Homo sapiens: one gene and its partner. The protein of the gene in region 1 interacts with the protein of each later gene in a pairwise test. Each region holds a gene or a part of one and is shown on either strand. Other genes may lie near its edges.

Evidence for each region.
Region 2: the proteins of NNMT (region 1) and BMF interact in a two-hybrid assay, tested with the Homo sapiens proteins (one large-scale study listed by BioGRID and IntAct).

What each region holds. Positions count from the first base shown.
Region 1 is NC_000011.10:114,309,638-114,313,462, forward strand, and holds part of NNMT (nicotinamide N-methyltransferase), read left to right. Parts: intron 1-2,407; coding exon 2,408-2,840; 3' UTR 2,841-3,825. UniProt on the Homo sapiens protein: Catalyzes the N-methylation of nicotinamide using the universal methyl donor S-adenosyl-L-methionine to form N1-methylnicotinamide and S-adenosyl-L-homocysteine, a predominant nicotinamide/vitamin B3 clearance pathway.
Region 2 is NC_000015.10:40,089,429-40,091,998, forward strand, and holds part of BMF (bcl-2-modifying factor), read right to left. Parts: intron 2,461-2,570; coding exon 2,359-2,460; 3' UTR 1-2,358. UniProt on the Homo sapiens protein: May play a role in apoptosis. Isoform 1 seems to be the main initiator.

The DNA of each region.
Region 1 (3,825 bases):
TACAATTAATGCACCCATTTAAATTGCGAAATTCAGTAGTTTTTAGTATACTTTCAGAGTTGTGCAACCTTCATCACAATCAATTTTACAACATTTTCATAATTCTCAAAAGAAATCCTGTACCCATTAGCAGCCACTCCCATTTCTCTCCAAATCCCTCAGCTCCTGGCAACCACTGGTCTGCTTTCAGTCTCTGTAGCTTTGCCTTTTCTGGACATTTCATATAAATGGAATCATACAATATGTGGCCTTTTGGTTCTGGCTTTTTTCATTTAGCCTGTGTCTAGAAGGTCCATCCATGTTGTAGCATGTGTCAGAATTTCATTTCTTTTTGTTGCCAAATAATATTCCATTATATGTATATATCACATTTTATTTACCTATTCAGAAGTTGACGGTTGCATTGTTTGCACCTTTTAGCTGTTTATAAACATTCATTACAAGTTTTTGTATGGATATATGTTTTCATTTCTCTTGGGTATATACCTAGACAGATTTCCTGGGTCATGTGGTAACTCTATATTTAACCTTTTAAGGAACTGCCAGACTGTTTTCCAAAGTAACTGGACTATTTTACATTGTCAGCAGCAGTGTATGTAGGTTCCAGTTTCTGCAAATCCTTGCCAACACTTGGTATTATCTGTCTTTTTTATTATAGCCGTCATAGTGATGTGAAGTGGTATCTCATGGTTTTGATTTGCATTTCTCTGATGACTGACAATGTTGAGCATCTTTTCATCTGCTAATTGCTAAGCTCCTTAAATGGAAAATTATAGGAAGCATAAAGCATGTTTGCAAAGAAGTGATTATATTCGCTAGGATTAAGATTTTAAGTGAATATTTAAGATGCCCATGACTAGTGTCCACTCTCTCGAATCAAGTTTTATTTAAACCATTGACTTTTCCTCATAACTGGAAATGGTCCCAGTGAAAGTCTCCCTCACTTGCTGGAATGTGGGGCCATCTCTGCTGTCTGTCAAGCCTTGATGCCCAAGTGGCCATTTTCTCCTGGAGTCTGCATCAGATGGTAGAGTGTGTGTTTCCTGAGTGTGAGACTGGATCTGCTCCACAATGCTTTGCTGGTTAACTCCTTCCAAGAGTGCAATACCCAGGGGTCACTCCTACTCTTAGTGCTCTGGGGCCTGGGCCCTTAACACACTCAATGTTTCTTCCCCTTTTCTCACTTATCTGATCTTCTGCTACTTCTTTCTCCTTTGTCCGCCCCTGCTCTCTGGTTTCTCTTGTACACTCTGTTTATTTAATTTTGATCATTTGTTTGTTTGTTCCTTTCTTCCTCCTTTAACAAATTCAAATAGGATACAAGCCACTCTGTCCCATCTCCTGCCCTTGCCTTCTCTTCTTTCATTCTTTTATTAACTGATTTTTCTCTTGAGAAATCACCACTGGGTCAGGTGTGGTGGTGGCTCATGCCTGCAATTCCAGCAGTTTGAGAGGCTGAGGCAGGAGGATCACTTGAGGCCAGAAGTTCGAGACCAGCCTGGGCAACATAGGGAGACCCTGTCTCTATAAAACATAAAAAAATTAGCCTGGTATGGTGGTGCAAGCCTGTAATCCCAGTGCTTTGGGAGGCTGAGGTGGGGAGGATCCCTTGAGCCCAGGAGTTTGAGGCTGCAGTGAGCTGTGATGGCGCCACTGCGCTCCATCCTGTGCAACAGAACAGGACCCTGTCTCTAGAAACAAAACAAAACAAAAAACCCAAAACATGCCATTGATTTGGCAGAAAAGGACAGGGTTCCTGGCAAGGCTACCAAAAACATGATCTCTGTCAGAAAACATACTATCTGCAATATTTGTTGGAATCTGAGAATGGGAAATGTAGCTTTCTTCTCTCCAGGAGTGCCCTGTTCACAGCTGTGGGATAATGATCAATAGTTCCTAAAAATATCTATGGAAGACCTCACCACTCTTATTGATCAGCAACTACTGCAAAGATAATGTTTCAGCATTTGAAACCCCTTATTATTAATACTTATTCTGTATGGGTCAAGTAGCCGCTAACTTACAGTTTGGCAGATGGATCAAGTATAATAATAATAACCTATAAATACTAATAAATGAGCCAGTATAGTATAAGTGAGTACTATACTAAGCAGTGAAGGAAGAATAATTTCATGGAGGGAAGTCCACGGTAGAAGCAGGCTGCTAGGTATTATTATCGTTTTCACATACTATTCACTTTATGAAGAGATTTAACATAGCTCAGGGTAATATGGTCTCATTCAAATGCCAAAATGACCCCTCAGTTCTTCTTTCTCTCCTTTCCCGATAGAGGTGGCCCTAAGGACACACATCTGGGACAATACGGCCATTTTTAGCCTTGACCCAAGAGATCTGGGTTCCCCATGACTGGAGTGGAAAACAATGTCTGTGGGTTTGTGTTTTTCAGAGTCAAGGGTCCAGAGAAGGAGGAGAAGTTGAGACAGGCGGTCAAGCAGGTGCTGAAGTGTGATGTGACTCAGAGCCAGCCACTGGGGGCCGTCCCCTTACCCCCGGCTGACTGCGTGCTCAGCACACTGTGTCTGGATGCCGCCTGCCCAGACCTCCCCACCTACTGCAGGGCGCTCAGGAACCTCGGCAGCCTACTGAAGCCAGGGGGCTTCCTGGTGATCATGGATGCGCTCAAGAGCAGCTACTACATGATTGGTGAGCAGAAGTTCTCCAGCCTCCCCCTGGGCCGGGAGGCAGTAGAGGCTGCTGTGAAAGAGGCTGGCTACACAATCGAATGGTTTGAGGTGATCTCGCAAAGTTATTCTTCCACCATGGCCAACAACGAAGGACTTTTCTCCCTGGTGGCGAGGAAGCTGAGCAGACCCCTGTGATGCCTGTGACCTCAATTAAAGCAATTCCTTTGACCTGTCCAGTTGACTTTAGTCCTTGTTTCTAACTGCCAAGTCATGTGCTGAGTAGAGGCTCAGTGGTTGGGGCCCAATGGTTCATCTAGGACGGGACTAGAGAGGTCAGTCTACAAGCAATCCATTGACCACTTACTTGGTGCTGCACACAAATGTTGGTGCTATGGGACCCAAAGATGAGCAATTAGTATTCCAGTCTTCATTGCCTGTGCTTACAAAAGAAGACCTCACTTCCCTAAACATCTAGTTATGGCGGCTCAAGCCCGTACCTGCCTACAGAGAAGTGTCTGCAGTTACTCACTATTAGTTTCCTAAGGGGGCACTGCTGGCTCCTTCTCTCCCAGGAATGGGCTTCTCCTATTCTTTAACTCTTGCCTTCTCCCTGGAGAGGCTACCAAACCCTGGCCTCTGCCGCTGTTCAGGCTGCCATGTGGGTATAGCTGTTTGCTAGACTCCACTCTGGCCTCAGGGGCCAGAGAACAGCTGTCCAGCATTTCTGTTCATCCCAGCAATCCAAAAAAAAATTTTTTTAAGCTACAAAGATCACTCCATTTTCAAATTCAGACTCTGCCACTTATTAGCTGTTTCTCATTAGGCAAGTTATATAACCTTGCAGTGCCTCACTTTCCTCATCTATAAAATGAGATTAAAATAGTCTTTTTATTAAGAGAATTAAAGTGAATTGTGGCCAGGCACTGTGGCTCATGCCTGTAATCCCAGCGCTTTGGGAGGCTGAGGCAGACAGATTGCTTGAGCTCAGAAGTTCGAGACTGGCCTGGGGAACATGCAAAAACCCTGTCTGTATTAAAAATACAAAAAAATTAGCTAGGTGTGGCGGCATATGCCTGTGGTCCCAGCTACTCAGGAGGCTGAAGTGGGAGGATGGCTTGAGCCCGGGAGGCGGAGGTTGCAATGAACTGAGATCGCACCACTGTGTTCCAGACAGAGTGCG
Region 2 (2,570 bases), on another chromosome or scaffold:
CCCTGGCTCACTTAAGACAGTGAGTGAGTTCCTGGCTTTGCATAAGATGGAGACAGTGCAGTCAGACCACCTTCCACCTGCCCCAGGCTTGATGTTGAGGTGGGTTTGTCAAAGTCTGGGCTCAGTTCTCAGGCCACAGGGCACCCAGCCTGGGCCTGGCAAGGTCTCTGAAGCTGATGGCCTTGCCCCAGCACCAAGATCTAAATCATTTTCTCTCTCACTGAACTCAGGTGGAGAGTCTGCCAAAAGGGGTGAATAGTGGCTGCTGTAAATAATCCCGGTTTTTTGGTGTGTGCCACTGAAGCATACGGCAGCAGGCTGCCTGTCACCACCTTGATCCAGAGAGGGGAGAACAACGTATGTCCCATACACATCATAAAATGGTATGGAGACCCACAGGGAAGGCTGAATTTCACAATGGTCAGTGTGTCCCAGAGCCAGTCTTCAAGCTGGTCCCCGGCTCCTTCTCTGCAAAGCAGGAACCCGTCTTCTTAGCAGACAAATCATGGTACACACCCTGAGAATAGAATTCTGACCAAGAAGAGGTAATATCCAGAATATCTGAGCAGAACAAAACAAAGGCTTACATGCACAGTTTGAGGCCCTTCTCCTCCAGGGTGCTGTGAGCCCATATGGCACCTTTGCAAATTAGGAAAGGCACCCCTTCTTCTTGGGAGAAGTAGCCCCACACCAGGGCACGCACACAGCTTAGTGAGCAGAACACAAGCTGAATTCCAGCCTCCATTAGCTGCAGGTGCCCTTGTGCAGTGAACAACCTGCACAACTGTACATCCAGAAGATCAATGTCTCCTTCAATAGTACTGAAGACCTCCTCTCCTCAGAACTGGAAGACTTGGGCTTGTTCAGATTTGTGAGTCTACTCTAGACTCCTCCTATTTCCTTGGGTAGCCCTGAGGTCTTCTTTGTCCAGGGAAGCCGTCTTTCCTTTGGGCCTTACTTCACTGTTAGCACCAATGTTGTCTTTTCTCACATATGCAAAAGTTATAATTTAGTTTCTAGCGTCTGGTTAACAGATTCCCTGTGCCTGCTATCGGAGCTGCCACACCGGCTGCTTTAGATCCTCTCCATAAGTGCCGCAGCAGGGAGAGAAGGGAAGACGTGCACAGGCAGCTGTGATCCTGCTGGGTTCCAGAGCATGCCCTTCTGGCCTAGCTGGAAGCTGGAGGAAGATAGGAAATGTGTACCCAGCTTTGACGGTTCCCCACTCTAATCGTTATCTGTTACTCTAAAAGTCACTTAGCTGGCAAAGCCACTGTCCTGGCTTCTTCTGTATCCCACTAGGTATGAAAAAGGACTGGGGATAAGGGGGAAGAGGTATGTTGTTTCCAAGGAAACCAAGGGGTCTGGGGTCCCCTACGGCTGACTCTCATGGTAGGGTGGCCACCATATTTTCCGGCCCCACTGCAAACTTGCCCCCGATGTCCCTCAGTGCCGATGTTGGGGGTGGAATGCGGTCTGTCGGTGGGGTCTTTTGAAAGAAGAGCTGACAAAGGCACAGGCTGCCAGCAGCAACATGCTGACTGGCTATTCGGCTCATCCGTGGCTGACACCCAGCTGGTCCCAGGCCGCCAGTGGTGGCAGTGGCTCTGTACCTCAGGACCAATCCTGGGGCCTCCAAGTGGGACCAAGTCAGTTTTGAGGCCTAGCCAGAAGTTTGGTTCATTTTGCGACATGTTTGAGGGGTCCTTAGAGAAACTCAACCCTCCCTGAGGTCTGCTGGAGGTGGCAGGAGCTGGCCAGGAATCCTTGAGCCCATGGGGCAGGTACTGGCTGAGAAGTAAGAACCCAGTCAGATGTGGAGCTGGCCGGCCAGCCTAGTGAAGCTGCTATCCTCAAGTGGAAAGCCCCTGGCCGAAGCCCTGCTGGGTTAAAGCAATGTGACCATCAGGATCACGGCCCCCATCCACAGTGGAAGGCTCATAGGTTTGGTGGAACTGGGAGTCTAATCCACTCTCGATTTCTTAACTGAGTTCCTCTGGAAAAACCACAGTCCACTTCCCAGAGAACATCACTAACGGATCATCTTCGACAACTGGTAGATTCCTCAGTCGAAGAATCTACTTGTCAGAGCCCTTGGGAATTCTCACCATCACAGACACATCAGCCTCTCCTTCAACAGTGTTTGACAAAGGCCCCCATTCCAGGTCAAGGGCCTGACAGAGAAAGAAGGTCCCGCTTGAGTATGTTGTATGTACACTCAGAGAGAAATTAAAAAAAATTAAAACACAAAATAACAACAAAAAAACAATTTCACAAGACACAGTGTCAGTCCTGCCCGATGTCCTTCCTGTTCCAGACGGTGTTCCTGGTGCCCCATGTGAAGAGGGCAGCCCACCCTCACCTAGGGCCTGCCCCGTTCCTGTTCTCTTCTCCATTCAAAGCAAGGTTGTGCAGGAAGAGGAGGATCTGCCACCACACACGATTTTGGTTCTGCTGGTGCTGAAGGGAGAAAAAAAAAAAAGACCAACATAACTCCCAAACGCAATCTTAGACGACTCCCTCTCATTTCCAGTAAAAGTTCAGATCTCCAAGTCTCACGGCTGGCACTT